2 linked regions of the Homo sapiens genome follow. The protein of the gene in region 2 interacts with the protein of the main gene of each other region in a pairwise test. Each region holds a gene or a part of one and is shown on either strand. Other genes may lie near its edges.

Region 1 (3,830 bases), on a different chromosome or scaffold from region 2:
TTGTTCACTCATTTTTTTTCTCCTTGTATTAATAATCTTCTCCATTTACTCTCACTATATTGAAGCCCTTTCTGTTTCACTGAATGGCAAGGTGATGTCCTGGTAAGAGGCTAGGCTTTGGACATGTCCCATATGCAAACCCTCATTTCCAAGCAGTACAATCTTAGTTATTTAAACTCCCTGTATCTCATGGCCCTCATGGATAAAGGAACGATAATCGTAATAATAACAAGCTAATAGAGGATTATGATAAGAGAGCCTGTCAGTTAGTAAACACAATCAATTTTAGCTCATTCTAGGCACTAAACCGCTAAGGACTCAGACTACTTAGTGTTTAATTAATTATATGACATATTTTGTCATTTTATAATATTTTGTTGAACAAGTTATATATCTCCCTCATGCTTATTTGGCTTTTTAAATTTATATTATTTGTTTTTGTAATTATCAACATTGAATTTTCCACACACATGCAAATTTTTAAACAAATGAATCAACAATATATCAAAAATAGGTATGCAACTGGAAGTTGGAAAATCTACTCCCAGTTCCAGATAACTACAAAAATAAGTGATATAGGCAAATCGGATCATTCTTCTGTACCTCAATTTCTTCATCCATAAAACAAAGCTAATTGTCTCTTGACTCATTGGTAATCATAAGTTATAAGGTGACTGAAAGCACTTCGCACAAGTGGTCGGTACTGTTAGAAGGTGCTGATAATATTCTCATTTTAAGGCCTCAAAAAGTGCTTGTTATTTGATTATCTGACAAAATGGCACAGAATTTAAATATATTTTACTTTGAGCTGAAGATATATTAGATTCATTTAAATAAAATCTATGAACAAGTTTGGTGTTAGGAGAACTGAAGAGTTTGGAGACTGGAGCTCTAGTAACTAACCTTTTTACTTTTCTGTTTGATCTTTAGTAAGTCATTTATCTTCATTATGTGCCCATCCTAAGCCTCTTGGTGTTTAACACCAGCCTGATGTTGGTCCATAGAAAGGATTCATGATACAAAAAAAAGCGCATCATTCCTCAAAACCTTTTACTGCCATCTGCTGGCAAATTGTAAAAATAAATATGTGTTGCATCACTAGGACAATAAGTGACGCCCCCTGGAGTTGTTCTTCACACAATCTACGCAACCATTCCTAGTAATGCTGTCTAATGAGGTGTCTGGGACAGGGCAGGTATTCTGTAAATGTTAGATAAATGAATAAATGATGAATGAGTCGCCCTTATCAATAACTTAAGTAATCTCTGTCCCCTTGATATTTTTTTCTAATCACAGAGCAGCTTATGATGATTTTTTAAAACTAAATAAATGTTTATAAGCCACAAATTAATCTGTATACACATTATTAAAAAATATAAACAAAGCCTAGCATAGTAGGGTTGACATTTGGTAAGGTGCCTGCCTACACATATTTATTGTTACAATTGCTCCTCATGGCCGAGCATCAAGGTCAACTGGCCAGATTTTATAATATCAAATTTTCAAATAAGCAAATAGTGGTTCTAAGAGCATAAGTTGCTTCTTCAAGGTTAAGAGACTCTTAGTAGCCTAGGTCTTCTGACTCCAAATCCAATGAATTTTCTTCATCCCTGTGAGTTGTAATAAATCAAATGGAGCCAAGAAAGATTTGATCAATGGACCTGAAATTCTTCAAACTATAATGTTTTGATTGCCATGCTTATAAATATTCTCAAAATTCCCCATTATCTTTCTTAATGATTTAAATTCAAACATCTTGATTTAAATTCAAGATGTTTCATTACTTCACAGCTTTCTAAAATGTCTGGTAATGTTTGATGGATCCTTAGTGGCACAAGTGAACATAGAAAACTAGGAAATATGTTGATATCTATTTGTGATTAGTACTCTTATTATAACTGTAAATTGTTAAAAGTTATTAAAATATTTAAAAGAGCACCAGAGAGAAGCACTTTTATTTGTTGAACAATTAGAGATAGCTTGGCTCTATAAAGTGCAGGAATTTTACATTTAATAAAAGCATAAAAGCACTGGTTGCATCTTAAAGTGTTCTCATATCATGTAATTTGGAAAATTAAAACAAATTTATAATCTTTTAAATAGGCCTATCCTCAGTTTAATTGGGATTGTATAAAGGGAACAATAAATTTAAAATTTAGGACAACAAAATTTGAAAAACAATGATAGTCCCTTCAGAAGTATATTCAAATTATTAAATTAATTTTGCACATATCAACACTCAAGGGATTAATTTCATTTTGGGGGGAAATAGGGCAATTTAGAATCACTCTATAGTTATTGAGCACTTTTCTTCATGCTCTCAAAAATTCATTGCTGTGAGAGATGACCCTGAAAAGAGATAAGTTACAATGATTTCCCAAATGTTAAAAGACAGAGAATGCAGGAGGACCAGTTCCAGAGTCTTCAGATTGTCGATCCTGTTACTATTTGCACTGCTTCCACACGAGGACAGGCAAAAACAAATTACACTGTTCAGCTTGGTTACTAGCCTCAATCTCTGTAGCTCATTTCTCAGTTTCATTGCAAACTAGTCCTATTTTTGAAAGAAGGCCATTCTATTTACAAAATCATATGAAGTCTAACTTTTGGTACTGAATGAGGTTCTTTTGTTCCATTAATTGCTTCTCTAGTAGGACAGTACCTCGGGGAGAAAATTAGCTCCCTGTGTCATTGAAAAGACTCATCTGACACTCTCGGGACCCACCAACTTCCCTTCTTGCTCTATGGGCTCCGATTCTGCATTAAAAGTGAGAAAATACTCTGCCTAACTCCTTTGATATGAAGTAGTGAGGGAAATCCTCTGGGTTACTCTGACAATAAAGATATTAATTTACATTAGCCTTTACATTACATCTTCCCCAAGTGCAAAAGAAGACCCAGTCGATTTAATAGAAACTTTGCACAGAGAGGCTGATATCAAAGAATTAGAGCACAGCAGATAGAAAAAGCATACGAGAGAGGCTGGAGCCATGTAACAGCCCCGACAGAAGATGAGTTTGTGGAGCTCTCTCCTGTAATCTTCAAACTAGTAGACACTCACACACCTGTGCTCTATTTTTAGAAGGTACATTGCTGTAATGTACAATGACTTACTAGCACTTCACCAAAGAGAATAACTGTAAGCAGATGACTGCTTTAACTGATCAACTGGGCAATTCACCCCTCCTTTCCTCACGATTTTGGCTTAGGTAAGTGTTCTAAGTGGTACGTTTGAACTGCATTGCAAGAGAGATGAATAGCATTATTCTTACTTTAGGTTTTAGTATAACAGTGCTTCTATCTTACATATGTGAACATCCAGGAAAAATGCTTATTAATCATACTTGTTTAATTTTTAAAGGAAGAAGGAAGTGGTTTCAAAAATGTAAAAACTCTCACGAAAGCAATCCATACATACAACAGTTTGGAAATTTGAATATACAAAGATCCAAACAGCAAATGCAGTTAATCAGAAACTGAAGTTATCACTTGAGATTTATGATTACAAAGCCTGTGACCAAGTTTTGAACACAAAGGAAAAATAATTGCAAAAGTTACAGAATTACAGCATTTTCTTTCATTGACAATTAAATTCAGACTTCACAATAACATTCTAACCTTACTTCATTATACATTAATCTTGCAGTGGAAATTAGAGGCTTTTAAAGGAGTATTTCTGCTACAATAAAAAAAAGCGTCTTACTACTGTACAACAATAAGGTTGTATTGAGAGTTACAAGTAAACTATTAGGCCTTGTTAGCTAATTATAGTATTGGCATTCACTTAAGTTAGTCAGTTTCTCACTTAATGTCATTTTCTCCTATTCAAC
Region 2 (3,830 bases):
ACAGAATCCACCAGGAGGGCTGGTGCCAGGATACAGGAAAGCCTGTTAGAATGTCTATCCCTAGCAGAGCAGTCACACCTGGGAATTTTTGGGTAAAGTTTAAGTGCTGTCTGGATGAGTGTACAAAATCTTTCTCTCAGACCTGGTTTTTGTTCAGTGACTTGCATCTTAGTAAATGGTTCATTCTCCATTCAGTGAACTAGATAGAAATTTAACAGCCTTTCTTGCCTCTTCTTCCTTTTCCCCCATCCAATCCATCAGTAGCCTTGTTGGCCCCACTTTCAAAATTTATCCCAAATTTGCACATTTCTCCCTCCACTATGCCACTCTAGTCCAAGCAGCCTTCATTTCTCACCTGCTAACTGCAACATCACCCTCCCCAAATCTATGCCCAATACTGCGTTTCCACATTATAGCCAGAGTTATCTTTTTAACAATCTGATCATGTAACTCCTTTGCTTAAAATTCTTCAGGGGACCAGAAAATTCTCATGGTTCTTACAATAAAGATCAGAGTCCATCCATGGCTCATAAGGCGCTGCATGGTCTGGCCTGGGTCCACCTCCCCAGTCTCTTCTCTTTTTGCTCTTTCTTTCTGTGCCAGCAACACTGTGCTTGTTTCAGTTGCTTGGATACTCCACACATCCTTCTCTATGTGCTGCCTCTCATGTTCACAAGTTAACTCCTATTTGATCTTCGGTTCTCAGCTCAAGTTACTTCCTTAGGGAAGCATTTCCTGAGCCTAAGTCCAGGTCAGCCTCCTTTTTTGAGGTCTCATAGAACCATGTTTCTTTCCTCAGAGCACTTAATGCAATTGTAATGAAAATACATGATGATTTAAACATGATCTACCTCTTCCACTAGACTTTGAGCTTCATGAGTCAGGGATTATGTCTTTTTAAATAGGCATGGTATTTCCAGTGCTTGGTACAGAGTTAGTATTCAATAAATATTTGTTGAAATAATATTTCATTTGTGTTTTATTTGCATTGATGCATTCAGGTAACATGAGTAAACAGGTCAAGCATATGAACATTTTAGAGATAGGTGAATAGGAGTATGTAATGGGAATGAAGAATTATGGAAATAGCTGTGTCCATTTTAGCTCAGACTGGTAAGCTTGAGCAAAAGTCATAAGGGTTTTTTTTTTTGATAAATCTAGAACTTTTTTTTTGAGTGGGTGAATCTTCAAAAGCTGCTTTAAAAGATGGCAGCTGGTGAGGATTGGAAGTAAGGAGAGCAGAGGAAAGTTTTTAGGCTATCCAGTAAAAAAAAAAAAGAAATCCAGACCCAATTTCTATTTTCTCTCCTCTCTAAAACAGAACCATCAGCCTCTATAGTCTTTGTATTTGAGATAAGATGCTGGAGGAGATGAGGAGCCATGGGTCTGGGTGCTTTACAGAGGAAAATCAAAGGACAGATGAGGAATTTGATATCCCCTTATGGTCAGTTTCATCTAAAGTTTTAAAGAGAATTCAAGGTGGGGAGAAAGATCTCAACAGCTTGGTTGGTGCTAAGGAAAAAATGAAGACGCAAGGAGTCCAACAAAGGGAAGGAAGGATGAAATTAGCCTGGGTAAATAGGCATCTAAACCAATGAAAAGGGGAAGGAGCAGGTGGAAGAGCATTGCCAAGAACAGAGAGGCAGCATTAGGCAGCTAGCTCTGGGGAACACAAAAGCTGGTGTAGCAGAAGATCTAGTCAACCCACTTCTTTGTGGGGGGATTGGGCACAGATGATGACATCTGCTGTGAACAGATGTTGGATACCAAAAGAACTGTGAGATGTTTGCTTGCAGTTCACTGGGACTGTACACACAGATGTTATTATGTGATATTGTTACTTCACATATTATTATGTATTATTTTACTGTGGGGTATAAGATGTAATCTTTACCAAATAATAGAATATAACATAATCTTTACATTATTTTCAGAGTAGAGATCATTTATATCTTTTAACTTTTTGGTATTTTATGTATATACATATTTTTAAATTAATTAATTAATTAATTTTTTGAGACAGGGTCTCACTCTGTCACCCAGACCGGTATGCAGTGGTGCAATCATAGTTCACTGCAACCTCAAACACCTGGCCTCAGGCGATCTTCCTCTCAGCCTCCTGAGTAGCTGAGACTATAAGCTTGTGCCACCACACCCAGCTAATTATTTTTATTTGTAGAGATGGGGGTCTCATTATGTTGCCAGGTCTAGTCTTGAACTCCTGGTCTCAACTCCCACCTCAGCCTCTCAAAGTGCTGGGATTACAGGTTTGAGCCAACATGTCTGGCCTGAATATAAATGGGCTAAAAATGCCACATACCTCAAATCTTCTTTGGTATCAAGTAAGGCAATTATTATACAGATAGAAGTACACACACACACACACACACACACACACACACCCCCATGCATATGCATATATACACATACATACCACTTTCTCTGGTATTTTTCCAGCCTGATTCTCAGTCCAGCTTGTGGGCTTATTGGGATCCTCCTCATAATTGTTGGCTTCCTTTGAGATTAATTTTTGTAAAACCTCTGCTACTTCATCTTCCAGTGTATGTGCTTGGCTTTCTGTGATCTATCATAAAAAGGCAAAACATATATAACTGCTATATTCCCAGTCTTGTTATTAAAAAATAATGTGGACTAAACTGTAGTCAAACATGTATTTTTTAAAGAGGAATCTTCTGAACCATCTTTCAGACAGCCCTCACTTACGCCTGCACCACATGCTGGCTGTTATAGGGATTGCTCAGCACTCCTGGAAGAAGTATCTTCGGGCCCACCATGCAAGCTGTTAGTTCTATCTGTTGAAACCCATGGACCACATATTTTGAGAAACACCCTGAGCATTGCCCCTCCACAGCTTTGGGTCATAGTCAGATAACCTTTGACATCCTACAAAATTAGCATCTTAATAAAGCCTGTCAGGGCCAGGTCAGGGCAGAAGAGCCAAGCTGAGGTGGATTCAAATTAGATCACCTGGAGTTTCAAAAATACACATCACATGCTTTTGCTCATGTTATTTCTTTTTTTGTCACATACATGTCTTTTACCTCTGCTGGTTATATCCTAACCATCCCTCTAAGCTTCCTTCATACGCCTCTTCCTCTGAAGCCTTTCCTTACTGCCAGTTGGATATAAGCTATTCTCTGGCTCTTATGGTTTTTAAGCAGCTGGCATTTTGGGCGTGTGTCTACTTGCCTAGTTCTTCTGATGGATGATAAACTCCTAGAAAAAAAAGAATGGTGCTTTGCTTGTCCTTAAAACCTACGGGTCCTAGTAGAAGGAAGACACATTATAAACACTTGGCTACTTGAGGCAAGTGACTTGGCTTCTTGGCATACTCTAAACTGCACTAGGAATTTGGTTTATTTCCTACCAAATGACTTACAAGGCCGAGATTAAGTAGTTTAGAAACAATCTTGTCAAACACGGCTCTGTCATTTTCTTCATAAATCCTGGCAGCGATTTTATGGACAATGTCTTCAGCGGTTAAAGGAGTCCCGTCTAGTTGATGAAGACCATCTGGATCATCTAGACAGAACGACCACAACTTCACACCATAGTGATCATAGATCTATTTCATGCATCATATTATACTTATAATCTGTACTTCGCTTTTGTATATTCAGATATGTTTGAAATGTATTTATGGTGGTTCTCGGTCCACAGAAACCCTCGGTTTGAAATAAAATTGGTCTTCATGTTAAAAACTTAGTATGATAATGGACATTCTGAAACTTTCTTAGGTGACTATAAGAGGAAGGAAAAGCTAAAGGCAACAGAAAAGTAGTCTCCATTTATTGTTATCACCAATAATA

What was found.
Region 1: the proteins of SCG3 (region 2) and NCAM2 interact in a two-hybrid assay, tested with the Homo sapiens proteins (one large-scale study listed by BioGRID and IntAct).

Annotation. Positions count from the first base shown.
Region 1 is NC_000021.9:21,001,161-21,004,990, reverse strand, and holds part of NCAM2 (neural cell adhesion molecule 2 isoform 2 precursor), read right to left. Parts: intron 1-3,830. UniProt on the Homo sapiens protein: May play important roles in selective fasciculation and zone-to-zone projection of the primary olfactory axons.
Region 2 is NC_000015.10:51,687,973-51,691,802, reverse strand, and holds part of SCG3 (secretogranin-3 isoform 1 precursor), read right to left. Parts: intron 3,544-3,830; coding exon 3,401-3,543; intron 2,585-3,400; coding exon 2,435-2,584; intron 1-2,434. UniProt on the Homo sapiens protein: Member of the granin protein family that regulates the biogenesis of secretory granules. Acts as a sorting receptor for intragranular proteins including chromogranin A/CHGA. May also play a role in angiogenesis.